Linked DNA regions of Homo sapiens: region 2 is linked to region 1. A link means that fine-mapping ties the variant in region 1 to the expression of a gene that starts in the linked region. Tissue or cell type: breast. Region 1 holds a variant in brackets; the other region holds the start of a gene. All regions are shown on one strand. Distances are from middle to middle.

Region 1 (14,752 bases):
GCACGGCGCGGATGGTGGCCGAGTGGCAGTGTGTGGGCTTCTGCCACGGCGTGCTCAACACCGACAACATGAGCATCCTGGGGCTCACCATCGACTACGGGCCCTTTGGCTTCCTGGACAGGTAAGTGGCCCTGGGGCCCAGCAAAGTGCAGGCCCCAGGGCTGGGGGGTGCGGGCTGCATGAAACCTGCTGCCCCCAGGCACTGGCCCGTGATGCTTGAGGGGGAGCCGAGGGGGCTGGGGGCTGATGTAGGAAGTAGAGAGTCCAGGGCAATCCCGGAGGCCTTGGCCAGGGGCTGGTGAGACAGGACCCCTGTGGGACAGGGCCAGAGAGCCACGGCCACTTGGGACCTTCCCCTGGGCCTCCCCTCCAGGGTGGCTGCACCATCTCCCGGGAACTTCCTCTCAGGCAGGGCGTGGCTCTCTTGCCCCGTGTGGCAGGTACGACCCCGACCACGTGTGCAATGCCTCCGACAACACCGGCCGCTACGCGTACAGCAAGCAGCCCGAGGTGTGCAGGTGGAACCTGCGGAAGCTGGCCGAGGCCCTGCAGCCGGAACTGCCCCTGGAGCTGGGGGAGGCCATCCTGGCCGAGGAGTTTGACGCCGAGTTCCAAAGGCACTACCTGCAGAAGATGCGCAGGAAGCTGGGCCTCGTGCAGGTGGAGCTGGAGGAAGACGGGGCGCTGGTGTCCAAGCTCCTGGAGACCATGCATCTGACCGGTGAGTGACCCAGCCGTGCCCACAGCAAGGCGCCTCCCGTGCTGTTGTGCTTAGAGATGGTTTACCTTCTGGCTTCCAGGTTCCAAGTGCACAGTCACTCCCTGGGCCCACCCCAGCCCTGGCACCCCCATTCTACTCTCTGTCTTTATGAATTTGGTGAATCTAGGACCTGCTGCGAGTGGAGTCATACGGTGCTTGTTCTGTAGTGACTGCTTATTTCACTTAGCATAAGGTCCTCAATGTTCACCCAGGTCCGTATCAGGATTTTATTCCATTTGAAGGCTGAGAAGCATCCCGTTGTGTGGACAGGCCGCAGTTTGCTTATCCACGACATACTGGCGTACGTGTTCCTCTTCTGGCTGTTGCGTACGGTGCACTGTGTGTTGTGTGCCGTGCTGCCATGAAAGCGAATGCAGAGATCTCTGACTCCCTGCTTTCAGTTCCGTGGGGTGTACAGGTGGTAGGATTGCTGGGTCGTGTGGGTGACTCACTGGGTTGCACTAGCTAGGACGTGTATGTTGAACAGAAGGAGCTGAGATGGGCATTCTTTTCTTGTTCCTGACCTTCGGGGAAAAGTGTTCAGTGTTTCACCCATTGAGTGTGATGTTAGCTGTGGGCTTTTACCATGCTGAAGTTTTCTTTCAGAATGCTTTTACCATGAAAAGCTATTGCATTTTATCAAATGCTTTTTCCTGCAATGAAGATGGTCATGTGGTTTTATTATTTCATTCATATCTCCTTGCATTCTGGGGATAAATTTTACTTGGTCCTTTTAATATGCTATATGATTATTATTTTTAATATTTTTTGAGACGGAGTTTCACTCTTGTTGCCCAGGCTGGAGTGCAGTGGCACGATCTTGGCTCACTGCAACCTCCACCTCCTGGGTTCAAGTGATTCTCCTGCCTCAGTCTCTCAAGTAGCTGGGATTACAGGCACCCGCCACCACACCCGGCTAATTTTGTATTTTTAGTAGAGACAGGGTTTCGCCGTGTTGGTCAGGCTGGTCTTGAACTCCCGACCTCAGGTGATCTGCCCACCTCAGCCGCCCAAAGTACTGGGATTATAGGCGTGAGCCACCGCACCCAGCCATATGCTGTATAATTATTTTAATATGCTGAATGTTGCGAGTATTTTGAGGATTTTTGCATCTGTATGCGTAAGGGATACTAGCTTAGAGTTCTGCTTTTTCTTTAGTGTCTGTTTGGCTTTGATGTCAAGGTGGTGCTGGCCTCAGAGTGAGTTAGGAGGTATGCGCACATCTTCCATTTTTTTCCTTCAAAGTTTGAGAAGGATTGCCATTTGTTCGTAAGAGTATTTGGTAGAAATCACCAGTGAAGCCATCTGGTCCTGGGCTTTTCTTTGTTGGAAAAATTTTGATTACTGATCAGTCTCCTTGCTTGCCTTACCTCAATTTAGATTTTCTTTTCTTCTTGAGTCAGTTTTGGTAATTTATGTTTCCAGGAATTTTCTGTGTCAGGTAGTTTGTCCATGTCTTGTAGGTAATTTTGGCATATAATTGTTCGTAGCAGTTTTTTACAATTTCATTGTGGTAGGAACACAACATGGATCTATCCTCTTAAATTGTGGAGGGCACCGCACATCACAGCTGACGCAGGAGCAGTGCTGTACAGCCGAGCCCTGGAGCTTGTTCACATCCGCCACCCAAACCCTGTGTGAGCCGGTTACCAGCTCCCCATTCCCCTCCCTGCAGCCCCTGGTAGCAACCACTCCGCTCCGAGTCTGTGAACCTGACTGCTCTAAACCCTTCATGTAAGTGGAGTTACACAGCGTGTGCCTGTTTCTTCAGTCTGTTGTCTCCCTCTAATCTTCGTGTAAGTGGAGTTACGCAGCGTGCGCCTGTTTCTTCAGTCTGTTGTCTCCCTCTAATCTTCGTTTAAGTGGAGTTACGCAGCGTGTGCCTGTTTCTTCAGTCTATTGTCTCCCTCTAATCTTCGTGTAAGTGGAGTTACGCAGCGTGTGCCTGTTTCTTCAGTCTATTGTCTCCCTCTAATCTTGGCTCTTCTTTCTCCAGTTCCTTAGGCGTGAGTTGAGGTAACTGATTGGAGATCTTCTTCAGTGTAGCCATTTACACTGTGCATGTCTTTCTGGTCACTGCTTTTGCTGTGTCCATCAATTTTGGTATGTTGTGGGTTTTTTTGGTTTTTAGACGGAGTCTTACTCTGTCGCCCAAGCTGGAGTGCAGTGGCATGATCTTGGCTCACTGCAACCTCCGCCTCCCAGGCTCAAGTGGTTCTCCTCCTTCAGACTCCCAAGTAGCTGGGACTACTGGCATGCTCCACCACACCTAGCTAATTTTTGTACTGTTAGGAGAGATGGGGCTTCACCATGTTGGCCAGGCTGGTCTCCAACACCTGATCGCAAGTGATCTGCCTCAGCCTCCCAAAGTGCTGGGATTCTGGGGATGAGCCGCCGCGCCCAGCCAGTGTGTTGTGTTTTTAAGTGATTTCTAGCTTCATTCCATTGTGACTAGAGATGTCAGCCTTTTGAGGTTTATTACAACTTGTTTTGTGGCTTATCTTGGAGAACTTTCTGTGTGCCCTGGAGAAGACGGTGTGCTCTCTTTTGCTGGGCAGAGCGTCCTGTACCCGTGTGCCCTGGAGAAGACGGTGTGCTCTCTTCTGCTGGGTGGAGGGTTCCGTGTATGTGCCTGTTTGGTCTTGTTGGTTTAGGCTGTTGTTCAGGTCTTCCATTTCTCATTGATCTTCTGTCTGGATGGTTTTTTTGTTTTTTGAGACGGAGTCTTGCTCTGTCACCCAGGCTGGAGTGCAGTGGCGCGATCTCAGCTCACTGCAAGCTCCACCTCCCAGGTTCACGGCATTTTCCTGCCTCAGCCTCCCGAGTAGCTGGGACTACAGGCGCCTGCCACCACGCCCGGGTAATTTTTTTGTATTTTTAGTAGAGACGGGGTTTCACCGTGTTAGCCAGGATGGTCTTGATCGCCTGACCTCGTGATCCACCTGCCTCGGCCTCCCAAAGTGCTGGGATTACAGGCATGAGCCACCGCTCCCAACCCTAGATGGTCTATCCATTATTAAGTGGTGTGTTTAAGTCTCCAACTCTTACTATAGATAGAACTGTTTGTTGTCTGTCCCTTCCATTCTGCCAACGTTTACATTTTTGGGCTTTCTTATTGGGTGCATGTTTATAATTTTTACATTTTTATTGATGAATTGACTCTTTTATCCATATATAATGCTGTCTCTTGTAACGACTTTTTGTTGAGGGTGGATGTGTCTCACTTTGTTGCCCAGGCTGGAGTGCAGTGGCACAGCTGCGGCTCACTGCAGCCTCCACTTCTTGTGCTCTAGTTATCCTCCTGCCTCAGCCTACCAAGTAGCTGGGATTACAGGGGTGAGCACCTTTCCCGGCCCTTCTGACAATTTTTTATTTAAAATCTTCTCTGGCCGGGCATGGTGGCTCATGCCTGTAATCCCAACACTTTGGGAGGCCGAGGCAGGCAGATCACCTGAGGTCAAGAGTTCGAGACCAGTTTGGCCAACATGGTGAAACTCCATCTCTACTAAAAATACAAAGATTAGCCAGGCATGGTGGTGGGTGCCTGTAATCTCAGCTACTCAGGAGACTGAGGCAGGAGAGGCGGAGGTTGCAGTGAGCTGAGATCACGCCACTGCACTCCAGCCTAGGCAACAAGAGCAAGACTCCATCTCAAAAAACAAAAATTAGCCAGGCATGGTGGCGGATGCCTGTAATCCCAGCTACTCGGGAGGCTGAGGTAGGAGAATTGCTGGAACCCAGGAGGCGGAGGTTGCAGTGAGCCGAGATTGCGCCACTGCACTCCAGCCCCGGCAACAGAGCAAGACTCCGTCTCAAAAAATAGAAAACTTATCTGCTGTGAGTTTAAGAGTCGCCTCAGCTCTCTTTAGGTTACTCTTTGCCTGGGTTTCTTCATCCTTTCACTTCCAGCCTGTTCGTGTCTTTGAACGTCTTGCAGATCGTGTGGTGACAACATGGAAATCGTCTTTTCACCCACTTTGCCAATCTGCCTTTTGTTGGAGCGATCAGTCCATTCGCTTTCAAAGCAGTTACTGAGGGGGAGCTTCTGCCATGTTTCTGGTCGCTCACGTTCTCCCTTGCTACCTTTGTGTGTAGTCGACTTTTTTGCAGTACGTTGCTTTGACTCCCTTCTCATTTTGTTTTTAAGACAGTCTTAGGGTCACTGTGGTTTCAGACAGTGTTTTCCAGAGTCAGGGGGAGGATCGCAGTGTCTGTCACAAGTTGGGCCTTTTGCAGGCGGGTTACAGCAGCTTCTCAACACTCGCTAGCTCCCAAAGCAGGCAGTTGTGACTGTGAGGATGTGAGGGCCGGGCAGCAGCCTCTGCCTTCTCAGTATTAGGCCACTTCACAGGTGACTTGGAGGGTGAGCAAATGGCAGCTGCCTGGGCGGTGGATGGGTGGAGGCTGAGGAGTGGGGTGTGGAGGGCTCAGGAGTCCCAGGACCAATGCTGAGCGGGGCTTGTGTGGCACCTGTGCTGGGGGCAGCATTTGGGTCCGTGTGGGTCTCTGTGGCATGCGTGCCAGGTGTGGGTCCGTGTGGCACCTGTGCTGGGGGAGGGTGTGGGTCTGTATGGCACTGTGCCAGGTGGAGGGTGTGGGTCAGGGAGCGTGTGGATCCGTGCTGGCGGTGGGGGGCGGTGGTGGAGCATGTGGGTGGGTCCATGCAGCACCTGTGCCAGGGGGGTGGGGGGGGGGGGGTCTGTGTGGCACCAGGACAGGGACCCTGGGCCTTCTGCTTCCAGCTCCCTGAGCAGCCTGTGTTCCAGGTGCCGACTTCACAAACACCTTCTACTTGCTGAGCTCCTTCCCAGTGGAGCTAGAGTCGCCAGGCCTGGCGGAATTCCTGGCCAGGCTGATGGAGCAGTGTGCCTCCCTGGAGGAGCTGAGGCTGGCCTTCCGGCCCCAGATGGATCCCCGGTGGGTACTCAGTTCCTACTTCTTTGGATTTGTTTCCAGAAAAGGAAGCATAATCAGAAACAGAGGCTGGGGGAGAAGCTAGAGACAGAGCTGGCTGGGGCCCAGGTGGCTGCTCCGCTCCCAGGGACAGATTCAGTCAGGGCTTCAGGGCATCTCTGCGATGCTGGGGCCGGTTGGTCACAGAGTAGAGAGTGGCGAGGCTGACACAGGTGTGGGGGCAGACAGTGGTCTCTGCTGTGGGTGGGCTTCAGAGAAAGCCTCTGGGTTTCTAGGGAGAATGGGCTCCCAGAGGTCAAGCTTTCCCACACCATCTTCCAAAGGGAAGGGCTGCCCTGTCTGAAGAGTCCCGCCCACGTGCAGGATGAGACGTGGAAAATATTGTTGCTTTAACTTAAAAAACAAGACCAGTGGGGTTGGCTGGGAGCACCGGCCAGCAGGCCCTGCTGAGCATAAACCCCCTCCACTGGAGAAGGCGTGGCCCCTGCCCACCTGGACCCTTCTGGAAATGAGGGAAGTGCTAACAGCAGTGCCCATCCCACAAGCATTAAACTCGGGAGGTGGAGACTCTCCAGCAGAAAGCTGGGCAGCAGAGTGGTCCTGCCCCTCGGCCCACAAAGGGCCTTGGCCGAGCATGGGCATGCCTGGTGTGTGCCCACTGGGGTCCATCCCTGCCAGTGGGGTTCCAGGGACCTCGGGGACCGGGCTGCTTGGGCCCTTGGACTCTAGGTGAGCCGTGAGAGCGGGCTGGGGCAGGCGGAGCAGCTGCCTGCAGGGCAGGGACACGGTCAGGGGCTACCTCCCAGACACCCTGGCCTCTCCACAGGCAGCTATCCATGATGCTGATGCTGGCGCAGTCAAACCCGCAGCTGTTCGCGCTTATGGGCACCCGGGCAGGCATCGCCAGGGAGCTGGAGCGTGTGGAGCAGCAGTCTCGGCTGGAGCAGCTGAGTGCGGCAGAGCTGCAGAGCAGGAACCAGGGCCACTGGGCTGACTGGCTACAGGCGTACAGGTGAGCCCTGCGTCCATGGTCACCGGGGGACGGCGGGTCGCGTGCTGGAAAAAGTCCAGCCCGGCTGTGACTCCAGAGCCCGGATGTCATTCCAGAGCCCGGCTGGACAAGGACCTGGAAGGCGCTGGGGACGCTGCCGCCTGGCAGGCTGAGCACGTGCGCGTGATGCACGCCAACAACCCGAAGTACGTGCTGAGGAACTACATCGCGCAGAATGCCATCGAGGCTGCCGAGCGCGGGGACTTCTCAGAGGCAAGCACACGCCTGTCCCTGTGGTCCCTGGGAGGGGGGTCGGCCCCAGACCCCTCTCACCCTCCTGATCCTCCAGGTGCGGCGGGTGCTGAAACTACTGGAGACCCCTTACCACTGCGAGGCGGGGGCCGCCACAGACGCCGAGGCCACGGAAGCCGACGGGGCGGACGGCAGGCAGCGCTCCTACAGCAGTAAGCCCCCGCTCTGGGCAGCAGAACTGTGCGTGACATGATCTTCGTAACGGCCTCGGCACGCTCCACACCCCTGGAGTCTCCCGAGGCCCCCATGTGCTGCTGAGTGGCCAAGATGATGCCAGGCTGCCCTATACACTGGGGGATTCTGCCCTGGCCCATGCACACCCGTCTTTCCATGATGGCAGAGACATCCAGTCAGGACCTGACCCGTCTCTGTCTGAGGCCGGCTCAGCAGTGCAGCCTGGTCCCTGGGGGCTGGACCCAGGCTCCTAAATAAACCAGCAACTCCCTCGAGTCTGTCTCTGTGGTCATTGTTCCCCCACCCTGCCCTGTCCTCAGCCCCCACCCAGGAGAGAG[A/C]GCTGCAGACAGGGTCCGAGAACACCTTTATTGTGCACGTCCCCCGCAGAGCAGCCTCAGGCGTCCTGGTAGTAGTTGTTGAAGTTGATGCGCAGCAGAAAGTCCTCCAGGTGGGGCTGGTAGCCGCGGTTCACCAGCTTGGTCACCACTGGGGACCAGCGAGCAGCTCAGGCTTTTGCCCACAGTGTGAGCCCCGCCCTGGCCCCCCCGCAGCCCTCCCAGCCAGGGTGGGCCTCACCTTTGAAGAGAAAGTGGGAGTAGTACTTGAAGGTGTTGTAGGACTGCTGCATGAGTGCAAAGTTGGGGTGCTCTGCACCCCGCGGGCCCCCAGGGGGCCCCCAGGCCTGGGAGATGAGCTGGCTGCGGAACTTGAGCACGAGGCTGAAGATGCTGTGGATGACGTTCATGACGGGCGCCGCCTTCTCCGTGAGCAGGCCCCTGGGGGGAAGCAGTGCTGCTGGGTGGGCTGAGCCGTGACCACAGGGACGCAGCCGCTGCCCAGGCCTCACCTGAAGACGGCCTTGTGCAGGTACTCTGCGTGCGCACGCTGGATCTCCTCCAGGTCGCCCACGGTGGCCAACCTGGCCCTGAACTCGCACCAGGTGACGTGCAGGATCTGGTTGGCGATGTAGCCCTGGATGACCTTCACGAAATGCTGCATCTCGTGCTTGAACAGCTGCAGCTGACGGAACTGCACAGAGCCGGCCATGTGGCTCAGCAGGGCTGGCGGAGGGCAGAAGGCAGAGGGCAGAGGTGAGCGCAGCCTCCAGCCAGGGGTGCGGGGCGCCGGGCTCCAGCGGGGCCTCACCTGTGCGCTTGAGGTGGAAGCAGACGTCCTTGAGCGCCCACATCATGAGCTTCAGCTGCAGCAGGAAGGAGAAGACGCCGCTGTACTTGCTCACGCAGCCCTCGGTGATGACAATGTTGAGAGGCCAGTCCACCTGCCAGGAGGCGTGGCTCAGCAGGCATCCCACAGGCAGGCAGGCCCCTGTCCCATCCCCCGCGGCCAGGGCTGCTGCTGACCTTGTACCTGAGCTCCAGGCAGCTCAGCACATCCGGGGCGTTGGGGGCAAACACCTCGGGCAGGTACTTGAGAGCGAGGGAGAGGTTGGAGGCGTGCGGGGTGTCCCCATGCAGGCTGCACTGCAGGGCCTTGCTCAGCACAGAGTTCAGCACCAGCGGGTTGAGCAGCTCTCCGGGCGTTTGCCCAGCTCCAAGCTAGGCAGAAAAGGGACCACCGTCCCCAGGAGTCCCAAGCACATGCCTGGCACTCGCCGGCACCCCATGGGGCTGTGCCAGAGCAGCAGGGGGCTGTGGGCGTGCAGCCAGTCTCTCTTTTCCCACGGCCTCCCCTCTACCACTGGCCCCACCCCGTGTCCGGAGGCCACCTTCTCAAAGAGCAGGTCGCTGAGGGACTGGGCGAACTCGCCGTCCTCCATCAGCAGGAAGTGCCGCAGTGCCTCATAGTGCGCCTCCAGGTGCAGCTCCACGAAGAAGTAGTCGACAGCGGCCTTGTTCACCAAGGAGATGCTGGCAGGAGGGAGCTGGAGTCAGGGCGGGCCAGGACGGGCTGGGTGGGCAGACTGGCGCAGGGGCAGGGGCACTCACTGGGCGGCCAGCGGTGCCGTGATGGAGCGCTTCATGAGCACGGGCAGCGTCAGCAACTCGCTCAGCTGCACAGCAGTCTCATCAGCGGCAGACTGGACCTGGGGGTCCACGGGGAAGGCGAAGGCCCGGGGAAGCACGGGGCGCAAAAGATGAGCAATGGGCGGCTCGGCTGCGGGAGATGGAGCACGCACGTGCTGGGAACCGGCCAGCCCAGGGCTCCGCCCCCATCCACAGGAGATGGAGCACGTGCTGGGAACTGGCTAGCCCAGGGCTCCGCCCCAACCCACAGGAGGTGGAGCACGTGCTGGGAACCAGCCAGCCCAGGGCTCCCTGCCAACAGCAACTGCTGCACTCACACATGGACTCGTAACTGTCCGGGTACCGCTCCAAGTGGTACTGCCCTGCCAGGCCTGCCAGGTAGGCCTGCTCCCCACCCTGAGCCTCCGCCGCCGATGCCTCCGCCTCCTCACCACGGCCTGGGCTGCTCTGGGCAGCTGTGTCTTCCTAACAAAACACCAGCCTCAGAACCACCTCCCCACTGCACGCTGTCCCCACAACCAGCTTGTGCCAAAAAAAGGAAAATCGCATGTGGGACCCACCCGCGTGACAACCTAGAGGGACAGAGCCCTCCCTGCCTGCTGTGGGACCCCCAGGCTGCATCCACCTAACCTGTGAGTTGAGAGGCCAATTTGGAGAGAGGTCCTCAGTGTCCCCGCTCCTCCCAGGGCCTGTGTGGACACAAGTGGACACGAGGGCATCAGGGCCGAGTGCCTGTGGCGGGTACAGAGCCGAGCCGGCCCTGGCTCAAGCAGCCCCTCCCATGTCCCCCACAGCAGCCCAGGTCCTGGCTGACAAGGAGGCCTGAGGGGAACTTCACATGCCACCAACCCCACTGCCCGCCTACCTCCCAGGCTCTGTGCGTCCCACAGTCCCACTCCTGACCACCAGCCACCCTACTCTGACCTAGTTCTTCAGAGACACTGTCTCCCGGGGTGTTGGGCCACCATGGTTGGGTGGGAGCCACGTCTGACACGTTCTCCCCCACGCTGATGCTCCCCTCCCCGCAGCCCGAGCTGGGGGAGGACAGAGATGGCCCCACTTCTACAGGCAGCCGTGGCCCACAGTCCAGCACAGTGCTCTGTGCTCCCAGGCTGAGCGCTGACTGGGACGTGTGGCCAGGGGGGCTCTGTTGGGGCCTGGGTGTGTTGGGCTCAGCTTCTGGTGAGAGAGCCCCCAGCACCATGTGGGGCGGAGGGATGGGTACATGGGTGTTCCACCGTGGCCGGGTGGAAACCACATCCGACACAGGCTCCCCCAAGCTGATGCTGGCGTCGGACACGTGTCCATGGGTGTTGCACCGTGACCGGATGGGAGCCACGTCCGATACGTTCTCCCCAACCCTGATGCTGGTGTCAGACACATGTCCGTGGGTGTTCCACCGTGGCCGGGTGGGAGCCATGTCTGACACAGACTCCCCCAAGCTGATGCTGGCATCAGACACGTGTCCATGGGTGTTCCACCGTGGCCGGGCGGGAGCCATGTCTGACACAGACTCCCCCAAGCTGATGCTGGCATCGGACACGTGTCCATGGGTGTTCCACCGTGGCCGGGTGGGAGCCACGTCCGACACGTTCTCCCCAACCCTGATGCTGGCGTTGGACACGTGCCCGTGGGTATTCCACCGTGGCCTGGTGGGAGCCACATCTGACACATTCTCCCCGACCCTGATGCTGGCGTTGGACACATGTCCATGGATGTTCCACCGTGGCCGAGTGGGAGCCACATCTGACACAGACTCCCCTAAGCTGATGCTGGCATTGGATACGTGTCCGTGGGTGTTCCACCGTGGCTGGGTGGGAGCCACATCTGACACATTCTCCCCGACCCTGATGCTGGCGTCAGACACGTGCCCGTGGGTGTTCCACCGTGGCCGGGTGGGAGCTATTTCAGAAGCGTAGTCCCCTGTGGGAAGACCACCCCCTGACACCTGCCCAAAGAGCCGCTCTGTGGGCTGGCTGCTCCCCTCCTCCAGAGCAGCACGCCTGGGTGGGTGTGAGGGGAGCAGAGTCTCCCGCGAGGCGGAGCCACAGGCATCCATCTTCCCACAACTGTCCTCCCACAGCTGTAGCCCTGAGCTGCCCAAGCTGCACTCTGCAGCCTGCAGGGGCCCTGGTGCAGGTGAGGTGGCCACAGCTGGCCTCAGGACAGTACTAAAGTCGTACTCCTGTGGCCTGGAGGGCTGAGTGCTGGCTGCTGCGGGTGCCTCCCCAGGAGCTGAGGGGGGCAGGTCCAAGTTAATGGTCTGCAGCGCCACCTCCAGGAGAGGGACCATGCCAGTCTGCACGGACGGCTCAGCCCCTGGGCCCACAGGTAGGAAGTCTCCAATGCTGAGGCTGTCAGAGAAGGGTCTGGCCCCCTCCGCCTGCTGCAGCCCCCTGCCACCAGCCCCCACTGCTAGAGGCTTAAGGGGCTGTGGGGTCAGCAGGCCTGGCCTGTTCCAGCCATCCCAGGCAGGCGAGTGTTGCTCTGCAGACCCAGAATCACAGCCTTGGCCTCCCTCTGGGTGCTCAGGGCCCGGAGACGTGACCTGAAACACAGGTGACATCAGACCCAGTCTGGTCTCAGGACCCCCCAGCCCTCGAACTGTCCCCCAAGTTCAGCTCTGCAGCCATGACCAACACCAGGTGCCGAGGGCTATGGGAAAACCATAGGGCACCCTGGGTTCCACTCTGCCGCTTACCTGGGGGTGCACGCTCAAGAGGACGTCTGGCGGCTCCTGGGGCTGGTGAGCCTCAGACACTGCTTTCAGCATCTCCTGAAATTCAAGCCAGAGGGGTGACTGGCCAAGCCGGAGTCAAGCACAGCCCTACCCCACACAAAGCCACAGCCCCTACCGCCCATGGCAGCCATGTGCACTGAACCAGACAAGGCTTGTGCTGGGCTCCAGTGGGACGCTGGGCCTGCAAAAAGTACTCCAAAACCACGAGCTCCTCACCACCTGTATCTGTGCAATTTGGTGGCACACGGGGAGAGAGAGTGCTCTGCCGCAAACGCGAAAGCCACCAGCCCTCTCCTAGAAGAGCATGTAGGTTTGTGTGCAGTCTCAGGGGGTTTCCAGACCCCCAAAGCCCAGGGGAAGAGCTGCCATCTGAAGCCGCAGACATACCTGAATGTGTTTCTCATCTTCTAAGAGAAAACGAAGCCGTGCACTCTCCAGTCGGTGCCTCTGGATTCTCCACAGTGCCTTCTGCTCCCGACGAGCTGCCTCTGCAGAGAGCTTGCTGTAGTGGTCGACCAGTGCCTGCCTGAAGCCACACACCAGAGAGGACACGGCCACAAGAGTCACCCCACCCCATCTACCTGGCACCCCTCAGGCCAGGATGGTTCTCCATAACAGAGGCCCCAGTGGGCCCCCGCCCCCGTCTCCCCCTACCAGGGGCTGATAGCTCTGGGCCCTCACAGCACCTACAGGGCAGCACCAGGCAGGCCCTTCTACCTGCCAGGCTGGGAGACCCTGGTGAGTCAGCGTCCAGCCAGGGCTCAGCAACATCTGCTGGACAAATACCAGAATGAGATCCTGTGTGGCCTGAAGCAAGGGGTGAGCAGGAGGCCGAGGGCCCCAGGCCTCTAAGAAGTTAGGCCTCTTCCCCTTCTACAGGTACAAACCTGAGAACTGAAAACTAATGCAAAAAAGCACATGAAGCAAAACCAACACAAACGCTTTATTTGCTGAATTCAAAGCCTGCTTCACCGATCGTGCCCCATGATTTTGAGCTTCTCACCAGCAGGCAACTGGGCTCAAACCTGGACTGGCCAGCTCTAATTTGGCTGCCACAGGCCAGAGACGTAGTGTCTAGGCCTGGTTTTCTCCATGTGTTAACAGGACAGTATCGACTGACATACATGCATGAACACGTACTCATGCATAAATGCATACACGGACACACGTGCACACAGGCACGCGCACCCCTCCACACACATCCCTCACTCGCTCCATAAAGAGATCTAAGGTTGGGACCTACAGCATCGCGTGGGGCTGAGCAGGAAGCGGCCAGCCCCTCCCGTGAGGGGCTCTCTCCAAAACCCCAAACAGCCCCTTGAAGGATCCAGCACTACTCAGCCTGGGACAGCCTGATGACAGCACAGGACAGGTTGATAACAGCACAGGGAGACAGACGCAGATGCTGTGCTGGACAAATGCCCTGTCTCAGCCGAGCGCGGTGGCTCGCGCCTGTAATCCCAGCACTTTGGGAGGCCGAGGCAGGTGGATCACCTGAGGTCAGGAGTTTGAGACCAGCCTGGCCAACATGGTTAAACCCCGTCTGTACTAAAAATACAAAAAACTAGCTGGATGTGGTGGCGGATGCCTGTAACCCCAGCTACTCAGGAGGCTGAGGCAGGAGAATTGCTTGAACCTGGGAGGCGGAGGTTACAGTGAGCCGAGATTGTGCCACTGCACTCCAGCCTGGGTGACAGAGCAAGACTCTGTTTCCAAAAAAAAAAAAAAAAAAAAAAACGCCCTGTCTCTGTCAGACCAATAACAGACTTAAAAATAAATAAGGAAGGATGTTCAGAAAGAAGATAAATAAAGAGACAGGACCCCAAACAGTACGCAGGCCTCGCCTGGACCCTAATCCATACAAACCACCACAAGACAACGCGCAGAACAGCTAAGGATGCCTGGATAAGGCAGAACGCCCACAGCCACTCTGGGTTCAGCATATTGGTCTTTCTACCTTAATGTATGTTTGAAGGTTTTCAAAACAAAAAGTAAAATCATCAGTAAGATTAAGCCAGAGCTATGGGGCCCCTGCCGCACTGCACCCCTGGGCCTGGAGCCCGGGCTGCCCTACCTCGCCTTCCTCTCCAGCTCCTCCTCCAGGGACTTCAGCCTTCTCTCCCTGTCTCGGAGTTCACGGGCGTAGCTGAAGTCATCATCCAGCTCCTCCTGCCTGGCCGCCTGGCGTCGCTATAAAACACATAGAGCCTGGCCTGTGAAATCAGAACTGACAGGCGTGACCCCGCAGGGACAGGTCCTACCCACCTCCTGGTCCTTCACAAATTGTTCTTTCAGCCTCTGAAACTGCTCACGCTTCCGGGCATCCAAGGCCATCCGTTCTGACATCTGCCGGTCTACATTGGGACAGTAAGGGGCGCACTGTCACAAGGAGGCCCCAGCAAGGCCCCCCGGAACTGCAGAAGGGAGGACTTGGGGCCACTCACCACTCAGTGCACTCAGGACCCTGGATGCTGCTTCCCGGGCATGAGCGATTAATTCTTGTTTTGCAATTTCCATACGTAATTCCTGAGAAAGACAACTGGTAATCAAAGCATCCTGGCCGGGCGCAGTGGCTCACGCCTGTAATCCTGGCACTTTGGGAGGCCGAGGTGGGTAGATCACATGAGCTTAAGAGTTCAAGACCAGCCTGGACAACATAGCAAAAACCCATCCCTACTAAAAATACAAAAATTAGCCAGGTGTAGTGGCAGGTGCCTGTAGTATCAACTATTTGGCGGGGGTCAGGGGAGCTTAGGCAGGAGGATCCCTTGAGCCTGGGAGGTGGAGGCTGCAGTGAGCCATGTTCGAGCCGCTGCACTCCAGCCTCCTGGCTGACACAGTGAGACCCTGTCTCAAAGAAAAAAAAAGCAACCTAA
Region 2 (10,016 bases), 30 kb before region 1:
ACAGATCCCGGCCCAGGCCAGCCTGGTTGTGCAGGGAGGGCTGAGCCCTGGGCCTTGACAGCATCACCTTGGTGCTGCACCCACAGACCAGCTCAGTGGTGAGGGTGGGCAGGACATGGCAGCTGAGGAGACCCGAGGGATGGCGGCCTCCAGAGGTAGCGTTTGCCATGGGCGTCCTTGCTGCTCGCCAGCTGGGGCTGGGGACCCTCCTCACCCTCACACATGCACCCCGCCCACCTGCACCTGTCCTCCCTGCCCCAGCAGCCACCCGGCATCCCGCATGGCTCGGCTCAGGTAGGGAGACGTCCAGTAGTCCTTGGGGGCAGCCGGTCTGCGTGGTGCTGAGTCCCGCAGGCCCTGCCTCCCAGCTTGTGAGAGGAGCTGTCGCTGCCCAGAAAACGTCTAGGCCGAGGTGGGGCTTGAGCTGAGCCGGGGGACACAGGAGGCCTCAGGTGGAGCCACCTGGAGACTTCAATGTGACCAGGGCCATGGGCAGCAGCCACACTGCCCATCCCCCGCCTGTGCGCCTCAGCCTGGCAGGAGGTATGAAACCAACTCCTGTCTGGAAAGAGGTTCATGCCTCAAGTGAGCACCCTGCCCTGTGCTGGAGCTGGCCCTCCCTCTGCGCGGCCCGTGCTGGGGAGCTGGTGTCCGTCCTACAGTGAGACGCTGGCTCCCACCTCTCCCAGGTAACATCACCACCTTATCCCCAGACCTGTTCCTCTGGCTGTGTCCTTGCCAGCTGTGCCACGTTCCTAGAGGCAGGCGGGCAGAGGCCTGAAAGGGTGGCGCTCACCCTTGGCACTGGGTCAGGGCTGAACCGGCCCCAACCGCCTTCCCCCATAGGGCTCCCTCCCTCCCCTTGCCCCAACGCCTGCTTCTGTGGGATCTGTCACTCTGCTCCGAATGGGACTTGGCCCTTCCTCAAGGTCCACCCCTTGAGGACAAAGCCAGCCGGGGACCAAGACGGTCCCTCCCAGCACAAATGGCTTCACACAGTTTGTTTCTGTTCCTGAGAGCCCCCACCCTCCCTAGGACTCCTCCTCACTCCCCCCAGGGCACCTCCAGAAACCCTCCTCTGGCTGCTCCAGGAACAGGGCATCCACATGGCCAGCCCCCCGGCGTCAGGGCCTCAAAAGCTCTGGCACCCCAGGTGCACGTCCTCCACCTCCACCTGACCCTCTTCCCAAGGCAACCCCGCCTGCCCCCCACGGCAGAAGGGACAGAGCCTGCCCAGAGAAAAGCAGGCTTGGGAGCAGAACTTTAGAAGACAAGCCCAGCCTGAGATGTGGGTGGTGGCCCAGGGCCTGCGGCTGAGGTCCTGCCTCAGTTTCCCCAGCACGCTCCCTGAGGACTCAATCTCCCCCTTTTCTGCTTCTCGCCCCTCACAGCCTAGTGCAGCCCTGCAGGGGACCCCAGCCGGATCGGAGGGCAGTTCTGCTTCTCCACTGTCTGCTGCCCACCGGGGGCTGGGATCTCGGACACTCTCCCCTCCCCAACTGGCCACCTTGCCCAGGTGAGTCAGAGGGTCGTTCTGCAGCCCGGGGGCCAGCGTTGGTTTGAAATAGTGCCCCCTCCTGCCCCTCCCCCTCCCTGAGCATAAGCAGGCCTGGCAGGTGGATAGAACCGTCCCTCTCATGGAGAAGGAGGGGCTCCAGGAGGACCTTGCACCCATCCCAGATGGCCAAGACTGAGAACCCAGGCCTCCAGCCCCCAGGCCAGGGATCTTCCCTCCACACCAGCCCAGCACTGAGAAATGGGTGAGGTGGAGCCGGGGCGACTGCCACCCGCTGCCCTCCTGTGAGGATGTGGCCGAGATGGTCGGAAAGGCAGAATGACCACAAAGGCAGCGAACAATGAGAATCAATGGAGAGGATGTGAACCAGAGGCCCTAGGGCCCAAAGTGAGTGTCCTTCACCAAGGAGGACAGAGGCCTCTCTAAGGCCAGGCCTGGCCATTTGGGGACCAGGAAGCTGTAGGAGGGGGCGGGGCCTCTTGTGTAAGAATGCTCAGTGGGCAGCCAGCCCAGCCTGCTGCCGTGTGGACAGGCATTTTCACCCATCCGCCCCACCCCGGGAGGACCACCTGCAGACTCAGGACCAGGGACCTGAGGGGACCCCTGCAGGCCACCCGAGCCGGGGCAGCTCCTCAGAACCTGGGGCTGGGGCCGGGGCCTCCCTTCCTGGAGCCTGGAAGGAAGCAGGCTCCCCAGCACGGAGTCCTGGTGGACGGCCTCAGGCAGACCCAGACCAAGCCTGGGCGCTGCGTTGGACTCCCCCAACCCCAGGCCTGCTGGGTCAGCCTTCCAGGCTCGCTGAAGGTTCCTGCGTGGGGCAGCCCTCACTGAGGTCCTCCCCGTGGCTCCAGAGAGGAGCTAGTCCTAGGGCACTCGAGTAGAGAGGTGCGCCCTCCTCCCTCTTCTAAATGGTTCCCCAGCTGGCCCCACCTGGCCCCTTTCCCCAACTAACTCATCAGTGCCTGGCAGGAAGACACAGCAGCCCTCCCCCGGTGACTGGAGTCCTGGCCCCAGGGCAGGCCCCGCTCCAAGAACCTGATCCTTTGGCTGGGGCAGGGCCGTAGAGGTGGGCGCAGAGCTTCGGGGAGCTGGCTGTGGGGTCCGCGCATGCAGCCCGCAGGCAAACCATTGCCAGGCCCACGCCTGCACTAAGCCCAGCGCCAGCGCCAGGTCAGCCAAGAACCCGGGGTCGTGGAGGAGGAAGGAAGTCGTGGGCCCGGGATGCGCGGCCGGACCATTGCAGGAGAGCGGGGCAGGCGGACGGCGCAGCAGCTTGCGGGCAGCGAGTCGTCTGCATGCGGCGGCGAAGCGCCCGGGCCCCCGTCCGCGCCGGTGCCCGCAGCGCGCAGCAACTTGGCCGCCGGGTCCCGGCCGCCCCGGTAGAGGCTGGGTACAGCGAGGGGGCCGGGCGCCCGGGCAGGACGGGCGCGGCGGGTGGGGCCTGGCCGTCTCCCCCTGCCCTCGGGGCCGAACACGCACAGCGAGAGTCTAGCGTCGGCGTGGCTGCGGCCAGCCGGGTCCCCCTGGAGGCCTCCGGACGATCGGAAGTGACTGAGCGTCCGGGTCCGTGAGGCCGGGGGTCGGCCCGCCCTAAGACTCCCACCTGGTCCCGGTTCTCCGTCCGCTAGGCTGGCCGCGGGGCCCCTGGGGCCCGACCTTCCCGGGGTGCCCCAACCTGCGGCAAGGCCGAGGTCCCGCTGAGGCATGAGTCCCGGGTCGGGGACCGCTCTGGGCCGACCCCCGGAGGACGGACTAGGCCGATCCCCAGAGGGAAGGGGGCCAGGCCGAGGCCATGGCAGCGCGTTCCCTGATCCCGTGTTCTCGGCTCCTCGCGTCCCACTATCGGCTGTCCCTTTCGTGCGGGACTGACGGCTCACAGAACAGTTACATTTCAATATCATTCGACTGAAAACCATCCTGTGGACGCCGTGCGAGCATTGTCCCCATTTCACAGCTTGGGAGCTGCGACCAGAGAACGTGGGCGCGCCTCGCAAGGCCGTGACCGCGGCGGGACTCGAACCCTCCCTCCTGAGTGCGCGCCGATGTTCCTTAGGACCCGGGAGCGCCGGGGGGGGGGGGGGGGGCGGGGGCCCCGCGCGCTACCCCCTGGGAAGTGTAGTCCGAAGTTGCGGGCCGGGGCCAAGCAGGAGGCGCGTGGGACTACACTTCCCGGCATGCCACGCGGCCGCCGGCGCCCTCGGCCCGTCCGCCCCGCCCCGCCCCGCGGCCCCAGCCCGCCCCGTCCGTTGAGGGCCCGCGCCGCATGGAGGCCGGCTGAGGAGCGCCGCTGCCTCGCCTCGGTACGCCGCGCGGCGCGGACGGCGCGTGCGTGAGGACGGGGCCCAGCACCGAGCGGGGGGCGGGCCCGGGTCAGGGCCGCGGGGTGACTGTGGGGGGCGGGGGGAGCGAGCCCGAGTCGGGGGGTGGGGGCCGGGGGCGGGGGGGGTCAGGCCCGGGTCAGGTTTTGGGGCCGGGGTAGCAGGTCGTGGGGGTCAGGCCCGGATCAGGTTCAGGTTTTGGGGCCGGGGGAGCAGGTCGTGGGGGTCAGGCCAGGGTCAGATTCAGGGTTTGGGGCTGGTAGACCAGGGTCGTTGGGGGCCGGGCCCGGGTCAGGTTTGGGGGCCGGGGTGGCAGGTCGTTGGGGGGGCCAGGCCCGGGTCAGGTTTTGGAGCCGGGGGAGCAGGTCGTGGGGGTCAGGCCCGGGTCAGGTTTGGGGCGGGAGCAGGCCCCGCGCGTCCCCTGCCACCGCTGCCGGGAGCGGCGCTGCCGAGGAGCGGAGCCCCCCAGGGCTGGGGCGGGGAGGGTCAGCGGCGGCCTCGCGGGAAGGCGCGGGTCGGACCTCGAGTCCCAGGGTCCTCGCGGGTCGGGAGGGCCCCAGCCACCCCCGCCTGCCGCCTGCGGTGGAGCCGGCCGAGGTGAGAGTGGAGGAAGGCGGCCCAGGCCTGCGGGTCTCTGGGGGTGCTGGGGGAGGCCGAGCGGGAGGCCCCGGACCCCCGTTGTCCCCTCCGGCCCCGCTGAAACCTGGGGCTTCGCTCTTCTGTAGGTGCCTTTGCCCTTCAATTGGAGCAGAGCGGGGTTCCCATATGGGCGAAGTGGACGCCAGATCGTCCCCCGCTGTGCGCAGCCCAAACTTAAAAGGTCTTTTTAACTGAGCTATCATGAAGCTGCCGTGTGTCTTTGTCAAAACTCTTACAAGAAAGATGGAGTGGGAGCTGTCTGGGCACTAGCGTCCCAGAAACAACCAGGAACTTGTGGAGGTGCTAAGCTCCCTGCGGGGACTCCCGCAGCCTCGGTAGCCTCCAGATGGAAGCCTCCTAGCTTTCAGGTCCCTGAAGAGGCCGTGCAGGCCGCCAGGCTCACTGCGCTGTGTGTCTCTGCTCCCCGCTTGCTGCCGCCGCCCTTGCAGTGTGACTGGTGGGGATGCTGGCCAGCCTCGCCGGAGGCCCTGATGCTGTGGGGTCCGAGGAGGGGGCCTGGCAGGGTGGGTGGGTGGCAGGAGCCTGTGGGGCCCCCTGCATGGTGGTCAGTGTGGGGGCTCTGCATTGACTGTGACCAGGTCCTGGGAGGTTGGGGGCTGCCAGGTGTGCTGGCAAGGAGGCCTCGGGCTCTGGCTCAGGTGTGTTTCCCGTCTCCCAGCTCTGCCACACCTGCGTGAAGCGGTCCCGCCAAAGCCGGGAGGGGTTTCCTGTGGCCAAAGGTGCCAGGCATCAGAAACAGGAAGCAGGGGAGGTCAAAGCTCTGGGCCACACCCTGGTCCCTCCAAGTTTGTCATTTCTGCAACCCCCAGGTCTGACCAGTTTGGAACCTGGGCTTTCTGAGCCGGTCTAGTGGGTTGGTTGAGAGATGGGGGTTTTTCTGGTAACTGCATTTGGTGCTAGCCAGTTTTTGGTCTGCACTAGGAAGCTAGGCTGCAGTCTGGGAGGCAGTTTCTAGTGGGGTGAAGGGGATAAGATGGGTGTCTTAGCTCTAGCTGCTGTAACAAAGCATCACAGACCAGGAAACTTTAAAAAACAGCAGGCTGGGCTGGGTGTGGTGGTTCACGCCTGTAATCCCAGCACTTTGGGAGGCCGAGGCGGGCAGATCACGAGGTCAGGAGATGGAGACCTTCCTGGCTAACACGGTGAAACCCCGTCTCTACTAAAAAATACAAAAAATTAGCTGGGTGTAGTGGCAGGCGCCTGTAGTCCCAGCTACTCGGGAGGCTGAGGCAGGAGAATGGCGTGAACCCGGGAGGCAGAGCTTGCAGTGAGCCGAGATCATGCCACTGCACTCCAGCGTGGGCAACAGAGTGTGACTCTGTCTCAAAAACAAAAATGAGGTCTTGGCCTGGCGCAGTGGCTCACACCTGTAACCCCAGCACTTTGGGAGGCCGAGGCAGGTGGATCACAAGGTCAGGAGTTCAACACCAGCCTGGCCAAGATGGTGAAACCCCATCTCTACTAAAAATACAAAAATTAGCTGGGGGTGGTGGCGCACGCCTGTAATCCCAGCTACTCGGGAGGCTGAGGCAGGAGAATCGCTTGGACCTCAGGGTGGGGGAGGTTGCAGTGAGCCAAGATCACGCCACCGCACTCCAGCCTGGGCGACAGAGTGACACTCCGTCTCAAATAAAAAAAAAATGAGGTCTCGCTAAGTTGCCCAGACTGGTCTTAAACTCCAGACCTCAGACAATTCTCCTACCTCAGCCTCTCCTGAGTAGCTGGGGCTGTGAGCGAGTAGGCTCCTCCCACCATGCCTCACTGGTGCTGGGAAAAAACTTAACAGAAATTTATTTTCTCAGAGTTCTAGGGGCCGGACATCCCAGATCAAAGGTGCTGGTCCCTGGTTGCCATGCAGCCTCCTGGCTTGTAGACGGGCCCCCGCGGCGTCCTTACCCGGGGGAGCAAGAGCTGCGTGGCGTCTCTTCCAGGAGTACTAACCCCGTCATGGGGGCTATGCACTCATGACCTCATCCGAACCTGATCACCTCCTGGAGGCCCTGCCTTCTAATACCTTCATAGTGGGAGTTAGGGCTCTAACCTGTGGGTTTTGGGGGACACAGTTCAGTCTGTAGCAGTGGGACCTGAGCAGGCAGGTGGGATGCGCTGTCTGAGGCTCCCACTGGATGTCAGGTCCTGGGACAGAAGCCCTGCGGGACATTTCGGATGCAGACAGCCGTCTCTGACGCCAAAGGACTGTAGATGCCGCTCTGATTTTGTGTCCTAGGGCCGCACACCTCAGGCAGAGCCCTAACGGATGGGCTTTTGCGCACAACAGATGTCCTCCTGGGGCTGTTGGGAATTCTCAGAGGCTTCGTCTGCACAGAGGATCATGGTTTCCAAAGCCAGATATCCCTTTTTACAGATGAGGGACAGTGCTTGGAGAACAAGTGTCTTCAGAGGCAGTGTCTAGGGTCTCCTGAAATCGGGCTGCTAAGTCTTTTCTTGCCCTGTGGGTCTCCACCCCGTTCTCTGCCTTCGGGACAGACTGTGCTGCGGCAGAGAAGCTCGAGGCCGAGGCTGACCGCTAAAGCAGCATCTGAATGTGGCTTGTGCTTGCAGCCCAGAGAGGGCCTCCTGTGTGGGGCAGGTGGGATGCTGGCCCTGGAGGCAGGTTCCCGCCTTAAACGGCGGCTCCTGCCCAGAGCATCCTGCCCAGGGTAGCACTGGGGTCTGAGATCTGAGGACCCTGTCTGCCGGCTACCCATGCTCAGGAGGCATGTCCCACAAATCGTGTTCAGCACCCACCCCAGTCCTGCTCGGTGGACGTCCGTGCGGGGCAGGGAGAGTGAAGCACAGCTGGTCTGATACAAGCGTCTGGCTTCCTGCCAGGCTGCACCGCTTCCCAGCGGGTTGGCCTTGCAGGTAACAAGGCCAGAAGCCACTGCGAGGTTCCCTGGGGCAGTGCCAGCACTGGGGATTTGGGAAGGAGAGATGTCTGTCCCCCCGGAGGGGCAGCCAGGGTCTGCTGGTCTCTGCTGATGGGCCTGAGCGTATCTGAAAAGGACAGGTAGAAAGGGGGTGGCTGCAGCGTGCGCTGGCCGGACCCCAGGTGATGCTCTGCTGGGACCCAGAGGGGGTGGCTGCAGTGTGTGCTGGCCGGACCCCAGGTGATGCTCTGCTGGGACCCAGAGGGGGTGGCTGCAGTGTGTGCTGGCCGGACCCCAGGTGATGCTCTGCTGGGACCCAGAGGTTGTGGGGCTGGGAACCAGGTGGGGGTTCTTCAGACATTGTCTCTGAAGACACTTCAGAGTCCAGGCTCAGCATCTGTGGCTTTTGGGCCAGGGCCTTTTGCTCACCGCCAGGCAGCTGGGAGAGGCTCTGGGCCCAGCCATAAATGTCTGAGAGCACAGCTGCCTGGGAGCAGACTAGAGGGAGGAGGGCTGGTAACCTGAAATCACACCCTAGAGCTCTCCAGGGGCCTTGGCGAGGAGGGAAAGAGAGTGTTGAGACTGTAAGAGTGACTGTCAGAGACGTCCCCCAGAATCACGGGCTTTAGGTGCTGGGGGGTCCTCAGTGACCTTCCCGCCTGGCTCCCTGCGGGCAGCACGCCTCTGCTGAGAGGCTGCAGGGGCCAGGGCTGGGGGCTGGCACTGCCTCTGGTGGCGCTGACATCGTCCTGCTCAAGGCTTGGCAGCCGGCCCAGGAAAGCTTCTCTGCCCTCCCTGACAGGAGACCTGTGCACGCCCACCCCATGGCACGACTGGGGTCAGGACCAGCGCCTGCTGCTGCACCGAGACCCTGCCCTGTCCATGGCCACAGGCGTACCCTAGGCCGGCCTCAGAGGCGGGTCTGGCCAGGCTGGGTGGAGGGTGGGGGCTGACCGCAGACCTGGGGCTGCCACACCCATGGGGGAAGGGCTGTGGCGACGTGGGCGCCTCCTGTTGGCTGGGCCGACGCAGCCTCCCGCCCGGCTGCACAGGAGTTTCTTTAAGGAGTTTCCCCGGTGTGCCTCGGCAGCCTTGCGCTGCTCTAATGGTCCGGACTTCCGTGTGTGAGTTTCCCCCGTGCGCCCCGGCAGTCTTGCGCTGCTCCTAAGAGTTCTGGCTTGTGTGTGTAGCTAGACCCAGGGAGGCGGCCGTCTCCCGGACCGGGTGCTTGTCTGGGCTGGCTGGCCTGGCGGCTGCTCACAACAGCTTCCGGTGGGTTCCGGTCGGGTTGCATCGTGGAGCTTTCACCTACAAAAGGGGAAGGAGGCGGCCCAAGGGTCCGGGGCCTGGTCCTGCTGTGACCGGTGCCAGCTGCACTTCCTGGATGTGCCAACCGCTAAGACGCCCAGGCCAGGGTTGGGTCCAGACTCAAGCCCAGGTGGCAAGGAGTGGGACCCCCTGCCAAGGCTGTGAGGCCCCATAGGGGAGCCTGCCTGTGGAGCGGGCCCCCCTTGCCCTCTGCAGAGGCTCAAGGCCCCCGGGGACATGAGCCTGGTGTTTATCAGCTGTCTCCTTAGTCTCAGCTGACCTCCCCCGACCATGGCCCCATTGCACCACCCACCCCAAGCCAGGCCAGTTCCTCTCCCAGAAGTCCCGGCTGTCCAAGAAGAGGGCAGGGTGGGCTGCCCTCTTCTCGGCCAGCTTCAGATGGGGCCTCTGGTTGCACTGAGACAGGCCTCTTCCCCTGCTCAGAGCCGTCCCTGCTCCCCCAGCCCCTGAGCTGCCCTCCTAGACACTGCACAGAGAGCTCCTTCCTGTTCACAGGTTAGGACACCCAAGCTTGGAGGCATCTTAACTTGGATGTGGGTGGCCAGGACCCAGCTGGGTCTGTGAGTCCTGGCTGGGGCCGAGGTCTGTGCCTGCTGTGGCTGTGTGCCAACAGGGTTTGCAGAGGAAAGGAACCTGACATAGCGTCTTATTGCTCATTGTTCCTTTTTCTTATGAGTTCTGAGAAGTGGGCAGCAGTAGTGACATGAAAATGACCCCAGATGCACGCAGGCATCAGTGCAGAACCCGGCAGTGGCCCCTCTGAAGCACATCCTACAAGCCCCGTCGTTTCCTCGCCAGATGCTCGTGTCTGACTGACGCAGACGCTTCAAGACAAAACCACAATACCTTGCACGACTAGACAGCTCAGAATGGTTTCCAACGGCTCATTTTTATTTTTTACTTTTGTTTTTTTCTTGAGACAGAGTCTCCCTCTGTCACCCAGGTTGGAGTGCAGTGACAGGATCTCGGCTCACTGCAACCTCAGCCTCTCGGGTTCAAAGTGATTCTCCTGCCTCAGCCTCCCCAGTAGCTGGGATTACGGGTGTGCACCACCACGCCTGGCTAATTTGTGTATTTTTGGTAGAGATGGGGTTTCACCAGGATGGTCTATGTTGGCCAGGCTGGTCTCGAACTCCTGAGCTCAGGCAGTCCATCCACCTTGGCCCCCCAAAGTGCTGGGATTACAGGTGTGAGCCACCGCGCCTGGCCTGTTTGGGATATTTTAATGATTCTGCCTGGTGACACATCCATCCGCCAGGACATGCATGAGCCATTAACTTGGTAAACAGTCACTCCTGGCATTCCGTGGCTGAGAACATTCAG

Evidence for each region.
Region 2: it holds the start of TRABD, and the variant in region 1 is fine-mapped to the expression of TRABD in breast (GTEx, PIP 0.96).

What each region holds. Positions count from the first base shown.
Region 1 is chr22:50,210,191-50,224,942 of GRCh38, forward strand. It overlaps SELENOO (selenoprotein O), which reads left to right. Exons shown (of 9, transcript NM_031454.2): 4 at 1-121; 5 at 441-721; 6 at 5,527-5,677; 7 at 6,501-6,686; 8 at 6,782-6,938; 9 at 7,015-7,426. The coding sequence ends at 7,179. It overlaps TUBGCP6 (tubulin gamma complex component 6), which reads right to left. Exons shown (of 25, transcript NM_020461.4): 11 at 14,321-14,402; 12 at 14,142-14,230; 13 at 13,951-14,066; 14 at 12,264-12,402; 15 at 11,838-11,912; 16 at 10,061-11,684; 17 at 9,767-9,825; 18 at 9,454-9,601; 19 at 9,098-9,266; 20 at 8,878-9,019; 21 at 8,513-8,707; 22 at 8,298-8,430; 23 at 7,999-8,212; 24 at 7,728-7,927; 1 more. The coding sequence ends at 7,546. Among named protein-coding and RNA genes, the nearest start is that of SELENOO-AS1, 7.4 kb to the left of the region's middle. RefSeq lists an enhancer at 9,405-10,047. The variant A/C (reference allele first, on the strand shown) is at 7,490.
Region 2 is chr22:50,182,161-50,192,176 of GRCh38, forward strand. TRABD (TraB domain containing) reads left to right here and starts at 3,753. Exons shown (of 10, transcript NM_001320485.2): 1 at 3,753-3,816. RefSeq lists enhancers at 1,465-2,040, 7,040-7,109, 7,160-7,209, 7,220-7,279, 7,495-8,109 and 4 more and silencers at 2,926-2,995, 3,186-3,285, 3,556-3,925, 4,192-4,501, 5,442-5,491 and 1 more.